Regions from separate parts of the Homo sapiens genome. Here region 1 is linked to region 2. The links come from fine-mapping of genetic effects on gene expression. A gene starts in region 2. The other region holds a variant in brackets. All regions are shown on one strand. Distances are from middle to middle.

Region 1 (8,169 bases), 22 kb before region 2:
TAAAGGTGTTTCAATTTTGTTTATCTTTTCAAAAACCCAACTCTCAGTTTCTTTAATCTTTTGTATTATTTTCTAGTCTTTATTCCATTTATTTCTGCTCTGATCTTTGTTTTTGTCTTTCTTCCGCTAACCTTGGACCTAGTTTGTTCTTTTTCTAGTTCCTTTGGAGGTAAAGTCAAGTTGTTTATTTCTGACCTTTCTTTATTCTTAATGTAGACATTTATCAATATAAACTTTCCTCTTAGAAATGGTTTCACTGCATCCCATAAACTTTGGTGTGTGATATTTCCATTTTTATTTGTTTCCAGATATTTTTTGAATTCCCTTTTGATTTCTTCTTTGACCCACTGATTATTCAGGAGCTTCTTGCTTCATTTCCACTTTTGTGAATTTTTCAGTTTCCTCCTTTGATTGATTTCTAGTTTCATAACATTGTGGCTGGAAAAGATCCTTGATGTGATATCAATCTTCTTGAATTTGTTAAGACTAGTTTTATGGCCTAACATATGATATGTCCTGGAAAACATTCCCTGTGAGCCCTTGAGAAGAATGCCCCATCTGCTGCTGTTGGATGCTATGTTCTGTATATGACTGTTAGGTCCATTTAGTGGAAAGTATAGTTCAAGCCCAGTGTTTCCTCTTGATTTTCTGTCTGGACGGTCAGTCCATTATTGAGAGTGGGGTACTGAAGTTCCCTACTGCTGTTGTACTCCTGTCAATTTTTCCCTTCAGGGTTGCTAACATTCACTTTATATATTTAGGTGCTCAATGGTGGGCATACATTTTTATATGCTGTATATCTGGGAATGTTTGAATTTCTCCCTCATTTTTGCATCTGTTGAAAGCCTTCGACTTTCTGCTTTATTTCTTCCCCTGATCCTTGTCCTGGTACCCCCTGCAGCTCTGACATATGGCAGCAGTCAGTACTGCCCCCAGGGTCTCCATCCTGATATCCCAAGCAGGCTGCCCTTCGCATCAACACTCCAAGATGCGTGGGACAGAAACCAGTTCCACAGGCAGCCCGCAGACAAGCCAGAACCCTGTAAACATGTTTCGGTCTTTCCCTTGTGTCCCCAGGGAGGTACCAGGAGTAGGGTGGCCTCCTCCTGACCGTGCTGGGAAGGAGGTGGGGCAGAGGTGAGCCAAATGCCACAACATTTCCTGCTGCTTTGAGTGTGGTTTTGTCCTCATTGGGAGTTGGCGTGATTGCTGCAGATCCTTAACCAGTTCCTGGAGTTCCCACTAGGCGACCTGGAGCCATGCATTGCCCCTCGCCTGGTGCTTCCACAGAGGAGCAAGGGTCTACAGCACCCTAGGCCACTGTCCTGCTGACATCACTCCTGCACAGCCTTTCCCTTTCACTAAATCACATCAATACTGCCTTTCCTCTGATGAGGCCTCCCAACCTCCATCTGGCCTCTAGGGCCCTTGTGCACAGGTCTTTTTTATAACATGTGCCCCATTCTGTTCCAGCAGAATTGCTCTCCTTCTCCAAGCATGAGAACCCCTGGGGACTTGCTGGAGCCAGAGTCCCAGGATCATCTCCCTGTGAATCCAGGCAGAACATCTGGGCTAGAACCCAGAAATCCACGTCTCTAGCAAGTGCCGCTGGTGATTCTTAACAAGGAGCCTGTGGAACAATAGAGTCTTACTGAGAAATGTCATCTCCCAAACTCAGCGAAATTCTACGAGATAAAAGGGTGATCGCCAACATCTTTGCCCACTTACTGCATGCAGACACTGCTCTGCACACTAGATGCGTATTAGCTCAGTTAATCTTTCAGTAACCTGTGCAATCAGTCCTATTATCATCCCATTTTACAGATGAGAAAGCTGAGGCATAAAATGCTTAAGCAATTTGCCCAGGTGACCTAGCTGGTAAGTAGAGGATTTCAGCTTGAGCCCAGGCCTTTATCTCCTTGCTCATAGTCTTCATAGCTCTGCTATACGTGTTTAATTATTCAAGGCTGTCCCCTCACAGATGTCATGATATTGTAGCATGCCAACAGGCCGCAGCCACTTGCACACCATAAAGGCCTCATCTCTGGCTATGCCCACAGCAAAAAAAAAAAAAAAGTAAAAAGTAAATAATGACTACTCCCACTAGGATATCCCTTCATGTAGACCAAGGGCCCTTTTTAAGCTCCTCACTCATCCTGCCCAGGCAGCATTTGGTACTGTTGACTACAGGCTTCTGGAAGAGCTCTTTTGCCTGTGTTCTGATGAGGTATTCTCCAGCTCCTCTCACTGAGCTGTTTTTGTGGGTGCTCTCCTCTGCCCTTCCATGAAGTGCTGGTGTGCATGGGGGCTTGTATCTAAACCCTCTTCTCCTGGACAACCTCACCATCCACATACCAGCAACTCCCACCCCTGGGTGTTCTTCCCAGACCTGTCTTCTGCATCCCAGACGCAGACCACTGCTCGCTGCTTCTCTGTGGACAGGACTTTAACCTAACCAGCTCAGCATGTGCGACGCTAAGCCGAGGGCCCACCTCCCAGGTATGCCTTCTTTCCAGCTCCCTGCCCATTACCCAGGCAGCTGTCCAACCAGACATGTTTGGGTTCTTACGGCTCTGAGGTGTGGTCTTGGACACATCGATCCTCATAAATGTTCCGTATGTATTGTAATCCACCAGGCTGAGCTCACTTTTCCACTAAATCATGCCTAACTGACAGTGGCTGACCACAATCAGAGTTCATTTCGTCTTCACACAACATGACGAGGTGGCTGCTTCTCGTGACTGGGCAGTGACTCAACAAAGCACCAGTGGTCCCAGCCCTACCTCTTACAGCCCTTCCCTCTACCGTGCCCTGGATCTTCTGGGTCACTTCTCATCACGCTCCAAAGCTCTGCTCAGACCTTCCCTCATCCAGAGACTGCTGCATGGTCCCTGCATCAAAATGGTGAGCTGTGGGACGGGACCACAGGGCCCCTTATGCAGAGCTGGTAGGAAGTTGAAGGAGCGCCTGGCTACACACCCCTCTCAGGATGCTGGTGTGTGGTAGAGGCTCAGAAATGGGCCTCTCCTGTTTCTCTGCACCACCGGTACCACTGCTCCCCATTCACAGCCCTTTCCACACAGGGACAGCCCATGTGTTCCCTGCTCTCCCAAACACTGTGGGGCTGTGAGGACAGGGACTTTGTCTCCTGCCTCTGTCTCCCTGCGGCCCAGCACAGAGCCGCTCTCATGGTGGACATCAATAAATATGCACCCAAGGATTAACTGTAGAGAAAGGGATGACAATAAGAGAAGCAGTTCTAGGTAAGTGGTTCCCGAGCTTTAGTGTGCATCACAATGCCCTGGGCTGTTGGCTTCAATGCAGATTTCTGACTCTGTAGGTCCAGGTGGGGCCAGAGGCTACCACTGCTGGCCCTGCCACCCTTCCCTGGGAGCCCCTGTGTGATAGATGCTGAAATGGAGAGTATAAGATGTTGAGAAACCTTCCCCAAACCGCTGAGGCTGACCCTTCAGGTGCCAAAAGTCACTTTCTGCCAGTCCACCTCCAACTTCAGCCACAGCTGCTGTGGAC[T/A]CTCTGGACAGCTCAGAGCCTCCTGGTGCAACATGGCCCCGCCCAAGGTCAGTGCACCTGTCAGCATCCTGTCCCTAGGGAACTCTGATGCCAGGGAAGCCTTCCAGATCTTACAAGCACAGCCCAGAGGGCAGAGGGATAACAGCCAGTGGAGCAGCAGAAAAACCTCCATTCCCACCCCTCAGGAGAGCGAGACCACCAGGCATGGGGCATTGGAAAGAATCTTCCAGGGGCTGCCATGGTCCCTCCTTGATAATATGCCTCCCCCCACTGCGATGGGGGTCCCAAGAGACAGCGGGGGAAGAGGGGCTTGCTCTCAGTCCCCGCCTCTCGGGGGGTGACTCCCCCGCCTGTGATGGGGGTCCCAAGAGCCAGGGGGAGAAGAGGGGCTGGCTCTCAGTCCCCGCCTAGCGGGAGGTGACTGCCCCCCCTGCGATGGGGGTCTTAAGAGCCAGTGGGGGAAGAGGGGCTGGCTCTCAGGCACCGCCTCGCGGGGGTGCCTCCCCCCCTGCGACCGGGGTCCCAAGTGCCAGCGGGGGAAGAGGGGCTGGCTCTCAGTCTCCGCCTCGCGGGGGGTGAATCCCCCCACTGCGATGGGGGTCCTAAGAGCCAGGGGGGGAAGAGGGGCTGGCTGTCAGTCCCCGCCTCGCGGGGGGTGCATCACCCCCTTCGATGGGGGTCTTAAGAGCCAGGAGGGGAAGAGGGGCTGCCTCTCAGTCCCCGCCTCGTGGGGGGTGCCTCCCCCCACTGCGATGGGGGTCCTAAGAGCCAGGGGGGGTAAGAGGGGCTGGCTCTCAGTCCCCGCCTCGCGGGGGGTTCCTCCCCCCCCACGACGGTGGTCCCAAGAGCCAGGAGGGGAAGAGGGGCTTGCTCTCAGTCCCCGCCATGCTGGGGGTGCCTCCCCGCTGCGATGGCGTCCTAAGAGCCAGGAGGGGAAGAGGGGCTGGCTCTCAGTCGCCGACTCCCGGGGAGTGCCTCCCCCGCCCTCCGATGGGGGTCTCAAGAGCCAGGGGGGGAAGAGGGGCAGCCTCTCAGTCCCCGCCTCGCGTGAGGTGCCTCCCCCTACTGCAATGGGGGTCCTAAGAGCCCGGGGGGAAAGAAGGGCTGGCTCTGAGTCCCCGCCTCGCGGGGGGTGCCTCCCCCCACTGCTACGGGGGTCCTAAGAGCTAGAGGGGGAAGAGGGGCTGGCTCACAGTCCCCGCCTCGCCGTGGGTGCCTTCCCCCCTGCGATGGGGGTCCTTAGAGCCAGGGGGGTAAGAGGGGCTGGCTGTCAGTTCCCGCCTAGCGGGGGGTGCCTCCCCACCCTGCGATGGGAGTACTAAGAGCCAGGTGGGGTAGAGGGGCTGGCTCTCAGTCCACGCCTCGCGGCTGGTGCCTCCCCCCACTGCGATGGGGGTGCTAAGAGCCAAGGGGGGAAGAGGGGCTGGCTCTCAGTCCCCGCCTCACGGGGGTTGCCTCCCCACCAACCGCGATGGGGGATCGTAAGAGCCAGGGGGGAAGAGGGGCTGGCTGTCAGTCCCCGCCTCGCGGGGGGTGCCTCACCCCCCGGCTATGGGATTCCATAGAGCCAGCGGGGGAAGAGGGGCTGGCTCCCAGTCCCCAACTCGCGGGGGTTGCCTCCCCCCCCTGCGATGGGAGTCCTAAGAGCCAGGCGGTAAGAGGGGCTGGCTCTCAGTCCCTGCGTCGCGGTGGGTGCCTCCCCACCCTGCGATGGGGGTCCTAAGGGCCAGGGGGGGAAGAGGCGGAGAGGGTGGTAATAATTCCAGCATCGCAGGCTGTTCACCCAGCATGGGAAATTGTCCTTGATATCCTGAAAGGGAGAGGATGCTCTTATTCCCCATAATAGACAGATATGACTCCCCATAATAGAGCACGATGTGTACACCCACCCTGTGATATTCTTCCTAATATTCAGAGGCCGAGAGGTTGGTATTACTCCCAATATCGCAGGAAGTATACACCCCCGTGTGAGATGGTCCTTAATAATATTCCAAGGCGGAGGGGGTGATATGACTACACAGATGGCAGAAAGTGGACACCCCCCAGGGATATTGCTCCCACGATGCTGGAGGGAAGAAGATGATATGACTGTCAATATGACAGAAGGTGGACACGCCCCCACTCATATTGTTTCTAATTGCAACGTGGGAGAGGAGGATATGACACGCGATATCGCAGGGAGTAGAAACACCCCTGTGATACTGTTCTTAATATTCAGGGAGGAAGAGGATGATATTACTCCCAATACAGACGGGTGTACACCCTCTGTACACCGAGGGTGTACACCCGTCTGTGAAACAGTTCATAATCTCCAGAGGGGGAGATGATCTTACTCACAATATGGTAAACAGGCTGTGAGTCCACCGCGGATCCTAAGAGCCAGCGGGGGAAGAGGGGCTGGCTCTCAGTCACCACAGCATGGGGGGCCTTTATGTTCAGGTTTTGCCCAAGAGTCAGCTTATTTACTTCTTGTACTAGCAGGGCAGTTCTGCCAAGGCCCTCAAACAGGGGGGCCATCCTTTAGAAACCCTGTCTAGTTGTTTAGAGACTTAGGCCACCGGCCTCAGCCAGGGCCCCACAGTTTGGGTTAAAAGTCCAGCTGCCATCTTTTCTCTCTCTGACGCATACAATGGAAAAGGCTTTGTCAGATCGGGTAGCCCCAGGGCTGGGGCTGCCAGAAGTCAGATGTTTTTTTTCTTCTTGAATCTCTTTTGTAAGTTATAGTTTTCTGGGAAATTTCCCATTTCCTTATTTATTGCATTCTTTCGTTACCTTTTTAATAGCTCTAGAACTCTATAGTTCTGCTCCCTTTTTATTTCTTTTTTTTTTTTTTTTTTTTTTTTTGAGATGGAGTCTGGCCCTGTCGCCCAGGCTGGAGTGCAGTGTCGCGATCTCAGCTTACTGCAAGTTCCGCCTCCCGGGTTCACGCCATTCTTCTGCCTCAGCCTCCCCAGTAGCTGGGACTACAGGCGCCCGCGACCACGCCCAGCTGATTTTTTGTATTTTTAGTAGAGACGGGGTTTCACCGTGTTAGCCAGGATGGTCTCGATCTCCTGACCCTGTGATCCACCCACCTCGGCCTCCCAAAGTGCTGGGATTACAGGAGTCAGCCATGGCGTCCGGCCTCCTTTTTTATTTCTATGGTTGTTTATTTGTGTCTTATATCTTTTTGTCATGAGAAATTTCTCCAAATTTCTATTCGATTAGTCTTTTCCAAGAGTCAACTTTTGGCTTCGATAGTCCCATAAAATAGGAAGATCTTTCTCTCTTCTTGATTTCTTCTCCTGATTGTTTTCTTTCTTTCCTTCTTTTTAAACATATTTTATTTTATGATTTTTTGAGACAGGGTCTTGCTGTGTCACCCAGGCTGGAGTGCAGTGGCACGATCTTGGCTCACGGCAACCTCCGCCTCCCGAGTTCAAGTGATTCTCTTGCCTCAGCCTCCTGAGTAGCTAGGATTACAGGTGTGCACCATGACACCCAGCCAATTTTTGTATTTTTAGTAGAGATGGGGTTTCACCATGTTGGCCATGCTGGTCTTGGAACTTCTGACCTCAGGTGATCCGCCTGCCTCAGCCTCCCAAAGTGTTGGGATTACAAGCATGAGCCACCATGCCCGGCCTCAGAGTCTGTTTCTTACTGGATCCTGTTGTCTGGTAGAAGGAGGTCTTCAAAGTTTCCAGACTCCTGTTCAGCCAGGATTGCTTTTGAATGGATCTTCCCCAAGGTTCGCTTGGGCCACAGGAAGACCAGACACCCCTGCCTGCCCTTGGGGAGTGGTAGACCTTGGGCAGCCTCCTCTCCACTGACCAGCAAGAGCAGATCCAGCCCATCCCTCACCTTTAGACTTTTCTTGGCAATAGTTGGACCCCAGTCCACAAGCTCCAAGGCTGGCAGTCAGCTCCTCCTCTACTGTGGTTCTCTGAAATGGCCCTCTTTGGGCAGGAGGCAGAGAAGCGGCTCTCTCCTAGTGCCTGCTCCTAGTGAGGATAATTAGTTAGAAGGAGAGAGACTCAGGTCAGGAAGGAAGGACCTTTGAGGCCTTTGCTTAGGAGGCAAGGCCCTCTGGGTGGCTTGTAATGCTCACAGCACATTTAGTAGGCGGGGACACATTGGATGTGCACTTCGGTGCCTGTATGTACCCTGAGCTACACAGGAAGGGGATGAGGCAGGGTGTGGGGAGGCAGGAAGAGGAGGAGACAGGCTGTGCACGGTGGCTCATGCCTATAATCCCAGCACTTTGGGAGGTGGAGGAAGGAGGATCACTTGAGGTCAGGAGTTGGAGACCAGCCTGGCCAACATGGTACAATGCCCAGCTCTTCCAAAAACACAAAAATTAGCCGGGCGTGGTGGAATGCACCTGTAATCCCACCTACTCAGGAAGGCTGAGGCACGAGAATTGCTTGAATCTGGGCGGACGTTGCAGTGAGCTGAGGTCACGCCATTGCACTCCAGCCTGGGCAACACAGCTAGACTCAGTCTCAAAAAAAAAAAAAAAAAAAAAAGAAGAGAAGGAGACAGTGGGAGGGAGAAGGGCCAGGCTCCCACCCCCCAGCCCCAGCACCTGCCTGGGACACAGCTGAGCCCTGAAGCTCTTCAGCCCTGGGCTGGGGGCTCTCTGAGCAGCCCAGCTGCAGC
Region 2 (8,000 bases):
ACCCCTTAGCCTGTGGCTCCTTCCTCCTTCAAAGGCAGTGGAGCATCAGCAAATCTCTTTCTCTGCTGAGGGCCTCACTCTCAGCCAAGGAGGGCAGGCTAGGCTGGGCACCATGGCTCACATCTGTAATCTGAGCACGTGGGGAGGCTGAGGTGGGAAGATCACTTGAGTCCAGGAGTTTGAGACCAGCCTGGGCAAGATGGTGAAACTCTGTCTCTACAAAATTGAAAATATTAGCCAGGCGTGGTGGTGGTATGCCTGTAATCTCAGCTAATCTGGAGGCTGAGGTGGGAGGATCACTTGAGCCCAGGAGTTTGAGACCAGCCTGGGCAAGATGGTGAAACCCTCTCTCTACAAAAATAAAAATATTAGCTGGGTGTGGTGGTGGTGCACCTGTAGTCTCAGCTAATCCAGAGGCTGAGGTGGGGAGTTTGAGGCTGCAGTGAACTATGATTGTGCCACTGCACTACAGCCTGGGCCACACAGTAAGACTCTGTCTCTAAAAAAAAATTAATTAATTAATTAATTAAATTTTAAAAAGGAGGTGAGCCTGACCTGGATGAGAGGCCGTTCCCCAAAATTCTTTGGGTGCTGGTTCAATGTCCTTCTTGCTCTCGCTCAATCTAGTTCAGGGAGGAGAAGGCAGGGCTGACCATGTGCAAGTCGCTGGAGACCCTCACAGCAGGCTTCAGATTCCACCATGCCCCTGCCTTCCTCAGGTAGAACAGTGAGGGTGGCTTCTGGGACAAGAGAGGATTCCACCCCATTGTCATTGTCTGGGATACATGCTTGGGCCTGACCTGGCATTGAGGATGGCCTGCCCACAGGGACAGCCAGTGTGAGACCAGGTCCAGGCTGCTGCAGCCATGATGCCTCCATGCACTACAGCTACTGGAGTCCCAGTAGGTGAGCCCCTCTGCCTAGAACGTGGGCCTGATTCTCAGCTGGACCCCTGGGCAGGATCATAGCTCTGGGTCCAACCCAGGGGTGACACTTGCCGGCTGGGTGACTGTGGGCAAGCCGCCTTCTCCTAGCTGGAAGTAGAATGTGGGATGACAGCAGCTGGGCCGATTGTCATGAAGCCTTTCTTGATGAGCAGTCCATGAAGCACTCTGCCCACGGCCCTCTACCCTCCACTGCAGCACTCACAGGCGGGGGCAGCAAACCTTTCCTTTATTGGAGAATGTGACACACAGTCCTGGGTGGGTTTGAGGTGAGCTTGAACTAAGGGAAGCCTCACCCCTGTCCTGCCCCTGTCCCAGTTAAGGGGCTCTCCCTAAAATGAACTATTCCTACTTCTCTTTATTTTTTAAAAAATTAAATCTAGCCAGGAATGGTGGTTTACACTTGTAATCCCAGCACTCTGGGGGGCCAAGGCGGGTGGATCACCTGAGGTCAGGAGTTCGAGACGAGCCTGGCCAATATGGTGAAACTAAAAATACAAAAATTAGCCGGGCATGGTGGCATACACCTGTAATCCCAGCTACTCGGGAGGCTGAGGCAGGAGAATTGCTTGAACCCGGGAGGCAGAGGTTGCAGTGGGCCAAGGTCGCACCACTGCACTCCAGCCTGGGTGACAGAGTGAGACTCTGTCTCAAAAAAAAAAAAAAATTAAATTTTTATTTAATCTTTTTTTCTCTTTGGCTTCTCAAAGTTCAACTTAAAAAGGTAGCTCCAGGGACCAGGCGCGGTGGCTTATGCCTATAATCCCAGCACTTTGGGAGGCCGAGGTGGGCTGATCACGAGGTCAAGAGATCGAGACCATTCTGACAAACATTGTGAAACCCCGTCTCTACTAAAAATACAAAAATTAGCTGGGCGTGGTGGCGTGTGCCTGTAGTCCCAGCTACTCAGGAGGCTGAGGCAGGAGAATCACTTGAACCCAGGATGTGGAGGTTGCAGTGAGCCAAGATTGCGCCATTGCACTCCAGCCTGGCGACAGGGCAAGACTCCGTCTCAAAAAAAAAAAAAAAAAGAGGTAGGTCCAGGCCGGGCATGGTGGCTCACACCTGTAATCCCAGCATTTTGGGAAGCCAAGGCAGGTGGATCACCTGAAGTCAGGAGTTTGAGACCAGCCAGGGCAACATGGTGAAACCTCGTCTCTACTAAAAATAAAAAAAATTAGCTGGGTGTGGTGGCAGGCACATGTAATCCCAGCTACTCAGGAGGCCGAGGCACAAGAATTGCTTGAACCCGGGAAGGAGAGGTTGCAGTGAGCTGAGATCATGCCACTGCACTCCAGCCTGGGCAACAGAGCAAGACTCTGTCTCAAAACAAACAAACAAACAAAGGTAGGTCTGCTCCAGGCCAAACTTTTTATTTATTTATTTTTTGAGACGGATTTTCGCTCTGTTGTCCAGGCTGGAGTGCAGTGGTGCAGTCTCAGCTCACTGCAACCTCTGCCTCGTGGGTTCAAGTGATTCTCCCACCTCAGCCTCCTGAGCAGCTGGGATTACAGGCACACGCCACCACGCCCGGCTTATTTTTGTATTTTTAGTAGAGACGGGTTTTCACCATGTTGGTCAGGCTGGTCTCAAACTCCTGACCTCGTGATCTGCCCGCCTCGGCCTCCCAAAGTGCTGGGATTACAGGCGTGAGCCACCAGGCCTGGCCTTTTTTTTTCTTTTTTTTGAGACAGGGTCTTGCTCTGTTGCTTAGGCTGGAGTGCAAGGGCACGATCTCTGCTCACTGCAACTTCTGCCTCCCAGTTCAAGTGATTCTCCTGCCTCAGCCTCCTGAGTAGCTGGGACTACAGGCGTGTACCACCACACCTGGCTAATTAAACATTTTATTTTTAATTAATTAATTAATTTTTTTTTTTTTAAAGACAGGGTCTCACTCTGTTGCCCAGGCTGTAGTGCAGTGGTGCAGTCATAGCTCACTATAGCCTCGAACTCCTGGGCCCAAGTGATCCTCCTGCCTTAGCCTCCCAAACAGCTGCAACTAAGGTGCATGCCACCAGGTCTGGCTAATTTTTTTTGTGCTTTCTGTAGAGACGGGGGTGGGGGGGGCTGAGTGGGCGGGGGTGGGAGTAGGGTGTCTCACTATGTTTCCCAGGCTGGTCTCCAACTCCTAGGCTCAAGCAATCCTCCCACCTCGGCCTCCCGTAGCGCTGGGATTACAGGTGGGAGCCACCCCGCCTAGCTAATGTTCCTGTTTCTCTTGTCCAGAGCTGGAGTCCAGCCTGATTCCCACCCACAGGTTGTAACCAATGAGCCCTAAGAGAAGCGCTGAAGACCAGGAAGGCCCAGATCCAGGGGTAGGGGTGTTGGGTCCTCTCCACTGGGGTGCAGGCAGAGAGGCAAAGAGGAAGGAGACCCTTCGTGACTCTCAGCGAGGCTGTGAAGAAGAATATCCGGAAGCCACAAGAGGTATATCCGGAAGCCACAAGAGGTGTGGAAACCCCGTTTCCAAGGCTGGGCCCAGTAGCTCGTGCCTGTAATCCCAGCATTTTGGTAGGCTGAGGCGGGTGGATGGCTCGAGCTCAGGAGTTCGAGAGCAGCCTGGGTAACATGGCGAAACCCCTCCCCCCCCCCCCCCCCCGTCTCCAAAAAATACAATAGCCAGCGTGGTGCAGCCGTCTGTAGTCCCAGCTACTCTGGAGGCTCAGGTGGGAGGATCGCTTCAGGCTGGGAGGCAGAGATCACCCCACTGCATTCCAGCCTGGAAGACAGGGCCAGGCCCTATCTCAAAAAATAACAAGGAAACCCCGTTTTCGATTTCGCCAACGCGGAGGGGCCGAAGCAGCAGATGGGCTTGGACGGTCTCCCGCCGCTCCTCCCGGACCTCCCTACTCCTGGGCTTTTCCAGGGGCAGCCCCGTGGTGGCCCCGCCCAGCGCCCGGGAGAGGGGCGAGGCCGGGGGCGGAATGGGCGGAGTTCGACTGTGAGGGAGGTGGAGGCGGGAGTCCGGTGGTGGGGGTGGAGTCTGGAGGTAGGGCGGGGCCAGAACAGCGGCGGGGGCGGAGTTCCGGCTGGGGGCGGGGCGGGGCGGAGCGGGAGCTGCGGGATTCCGGCTTCAGGGGCGGGGCACCGGCCTCTGGGCGGAGATCTGCTGCCGCGTTCTACCCTTCCGGCCCGTGTTCTATCCGCCGCCTCCACCTTCCATCCGGCGCCGGCTTTCGGCGCGACGGTCGCCGCGTTCCATCGTCGCGCGGCCCTTCGGGCGCCCGAGCCCGCAATGTCGGGCCCCAACGGAGACCTGGGGATGCCGGTGGAGGCGGGAGCGGAAGGCGAGGAGGACGGCTTCGGGGAAGCAGGTGACCCGAGGGGGCTGCTGGAGCAACCTTGCATTTTCAGGGCTGCCCTCCCGGGAAGGGGAATCGAGATGGGGTCTCGGAAGGGAACAAAGAGCCCACCCATTCCGCCCCGAGCGGGTCCGGAGTTGTAGGTGCTGTCTCGGATGCAGGGCGAGCACCCGCGAGCCGGTTCCCAGCCCCGTGAGAGCTGCAGGTCACCAGTCCCGTTTTACAGATGGGGAAACTAAGGCAGCTTCGGGGACACTCGCCCTTGTGGGCCTTGCTCCACCACTTCCTTCAGTCCTGGGGGAGACCGAGGCACCTGAGGGAGGCAGGGTTGAGCTTAGCGGAGGGGCCGGGCCGGGACGTGGAGTTGGGGACGCGGGGGCGTCGCTCTGCCGATTCAGCATCCCCAGCCACCCGGCTTTGCTGGTGTAGCCTCACAGCCTTGCCAAATGTCAGCAGCTTACAGAGCAGCCTTTTGCGTGCTTACGAGTGCAGGGGTGGGGTGTGAAGAGAACCATCGGCTCCCTTCTCACCTTCTTCAGCCTCAGTTTCCCCCTCTATAAAATAGGAATAACGATTAGTGTCTGCTGCACTGGGATGTGTCAGAATTAAATGCAAAAAAAAGGAAAATCCTTAGCAGGTTCTAGCATGCAAGAGTTCAGTAAATGGTTATCGTCATTATTATCTTTGGTATAGTAAAGATTGGCATGTTAACATACACTGAGGATTTAGTAAATGTGGTGTAAGTATGGTGCATGCTCTTTGTTTTGTTTGGCGTAACAGCTTTATTGAGCTATACAACTTACCCATACTGTACAGTTCAGTAGGCTTTTGTGTATTCCCAGGGTTGTACATCCATCACAATAGTTTCAGGTAGCTCTGCATTGGGCAATGCTGTTGGGAGCATCAGGAAGAGCTTCCCAGGAGGTCACATTAAGTGGATGTTGGCAGACAGGACTTAGAACAGTGGGGAGGAGGGTGGTGTCCCAGGCAGAAGCAAAGGCTTGGAACTGGGAAGTACCCTTGACACAGATAAAGCCTGGCCTGGAGGGGTGTGGGGCACCTGCCTCCCCAATTCCTCCTCCTAGCCTGTATCCCAGGACACAGAGTTCGAAATATTGATAATAATGACCATCCACTAAGTACTTGCTGTGGCCAGATCCTGTCTGAGCTTTTTTTTTTTTTTTGAGTCGGAGTCTTGCTCTGTTGCCCAGGCTGGAGTACAGTGGCGTGATCTTGGCTCACTGCAACCTCCGCCTTCTGGGTTCAAGCGATTCTCATGCCTCAGCCTCCCGAGTAGCTGGGACTACAGACGCCTGCCACCACGCCTGGCTAATTTTTATACATCTTTAGTAGAGACAATGTTTCACCACGTCGGCTAGGCTGGTCTCGAACTCCTGACCTCAGGTGATCCACCCGCCTTGGCTTCCCAAAGTACTGGGATTACAGGCGTGAGCCACCACACCGGCCACTGTCTGAACTCTTGATGTGTTTGAATCCTCACAACCTTTTTTATTTTCCCTTTTTTCCAGAAAGGTACAACTTGCTGGGGTAAAGCAGAGCTGAAATTCAAACCCAAGTGACCCTGACCCCCAAGTCCAATCCTGAGTTTCGGCTGTTACCAACCTGGAGGACCCTGGGCAGGTTCCTTCCTTCTGAGGCCTCGGTTTCCCTAGCTATATACCATGAGGGGGTTGGACTTTAAGATGCAGCCGATTTCCCAGGACGCTGTCGTCTGTGAGGGTGGCTGGCTCTAGGCAACGGGTGCCCTTTCCTAGAACACAGGCACATATGCACCCATAACCCAGATACGCTCCTCCAGCTCCTCCACCGGCTGCTTCCCCCTTGGTCTCAAGCTGGCAGCTGAGTGTATGTGAGTCATGGGCTGGCTCAGAACTGGGTCCCGCAGTGGGCACAGGCCCAGACCTTGAGTCCTCAGGGACACTGTGTTGCTGAGCAGGGCAGCTCTGGAGTGGCCGTGGAGGGGAGGGAGTGATGGTTTCTAGTGGAGACCAGGGAAGGCTTCTTGGAGGAGGCATTTTGAGCTGGTCCTTGAAGGGCTGTTGTGGTTGAGGCATTCTAGGTTGCAGGGATAGTTGAGCAATGGCGGAGAGGCTGGAAAGTCAGAGGCTTCATTCATTCACTCACTCAGTCATTCAACAAATGCTTATTGCAAAACTGTGAGGGCACCAGGGAGCCAGCAGCGAACACAGGACCGTTCATCTTTCATGGGGAAACATAACAGCACTCAGATAAGCACAGCAGTCAATCCTGGAGAGAAGGTCGTGGAGGGCTGAGGAGGGCTAGGGGCTCAGCATAGAGGCCTGATCCAGTCTGGGGCATTGGGTGGGCTCCCGGTGGTGACATCCATACTGAGACTTGAAGGATGAGTGGGACTCATCCAGGAGGAGAGAAGGGAAGGAAGATGGGAGGACCCAGCACCTTCCAGGCAGAGACAGCAGCATGTTCAAAGGGCCTGAGGTAGGTAAAGGCAGGTGTGAGAGAGGAAAGGAAGAGGCAGGGAGGCAGGGCTAGCTAGGAGGCAGGGGCTGGAGACTCCGCTGGGTGTTTTATCCTGAGGGAGCCACAGAAGGGCTGGCGAACAGGGCCCATCTGGGGACAGAGGCCTTGAATGCCCAACTCAGGAATGTGGGCTCTGGCCACTAAGCAGCTGCTGCAGGAAGTGCAGAGACTTGGCATCTGGCAGGACTTCCCATGTAGGACACTGGCTCGCCACCCTATGACCACCCTAACCCTAGAAAAAAGGATGCAGTACTAAAGTGTCATTCATTCAAAGCCACTCCTCTTTTGGTATTCCACCCATTTTCCAGACGGTGACACTGAGGCTCAGGAAGCAGTAGGGACTTGCACAAAGCCCTTTGGGAAGCAGGCTGGGAAACAGTGGAGGGAGGGTGTCCATTAGCCCCAAGGAGACACAGGATCTGGGCTCTGTCTTTCGCCTTCCTCCCAGAATACGCTGCCATCAACTCCATGCTGGACCAGATCAACTCCTGTCTGGACCACCTGGAGGAGAAGAATGACCACCTCCACGCCCGCCTCCAGGAGCTGCTGGAGTCCAACCGGCAGACACGCCTGGAGTTCCAGCAGCAGCTCGGGGAGGCCCCCAGTGATGCCAGCCCCTAGGCTCCAAGAGCCCCCAACCGGGACCCAACCCTGCCTCCCTGGGCTAGGCTCTGGCCTGGGCACTCACCCCCTGGCTTAGACACCTTCTCAAGGGCTGGCCTTCAGGGACCCCTGGTGGGTCTGCCTGCCTGGGCCACCCTTCCTGCCTGGGCCTCCCCTTGGCCTACCTGGGCCAGCCCCCACCACCTGGCATGCCCTCCTGGGGCCAAGAGTGGGCCTGCAACCCACCCACTTGCCTGCCCACCCAACTCCTGGGCGCTCCCCACTCTGCCCAGGCCTTGAGTGTCCACATTAAATGGGTCTCCCACACCGCTGTGCCTCTCTCCTCTGTATCCCAGGACGAGAACCCCAGCAGCTGCTGGAGGCGAACAGGACTGTCTAGGTGTTCAGGTGTTGATCCTATACTGGCGGCTCAGAGGCCAGGTGGTAGGGCTGGGGTTCTTGGTCACCTGTACTTCTGGACACAGAAGGTGCAGGTGAGGGCAGGGCTTCCTCCCTACCTGATACATTCCTGGCCAGCAGCTGCTTCCTAGCCCAGAAGCCCAGTTGAGACTGTTGGACATGCTGTGTGACCTTGTGTGATGCTCTCAGCCTCTCTGGGTACTAGGGCCTT

The links. PIP is the estimated chance that this variant, and not a neighbour inherited with it, causes the effect. A credible set is the group of variants that fine-mapping cannot tell apart.
Region 1: its variant is the best candidate, but not a certain one, in a credible set for the expression of BBLN in testis (GTEx, PIP 0.73).

The regions. Positions count from the first base shown.
Region 1 is chr9:128,134,596-128,142,764 of GRCh38, forward strand. No RefSeq gene overlaps it. Among named protein-coding and RNA genes, the nearest start is that of PTGES2-DT, 10 kb to the left of the region's middle. RefSeq lists an enhancer at 3,415-3,914 and a cis regulatory region at 7,531-7,704. The variant T/A (reference allele first, on the strand shown) is at 3,532.
Region 2 is chr9:128,156,229-128,164,228 of GRCh38, forward strand. BBLN (bublin coiled coil protein) reads left to right here and starts at 4,037. Exons shown (of 2, transcript NM_024112.4): 1 at 4,037-4,258; 2 at 7,215-7,696. The coding sequence starts at 4,180. The coding sequence ends at 7,387. RefSeq lists silencers at 88-288, 1,562-1,757, 3,777-3,986, 4,197-4,286 and enhancers at 2,938-3,891, 3,892-4,845.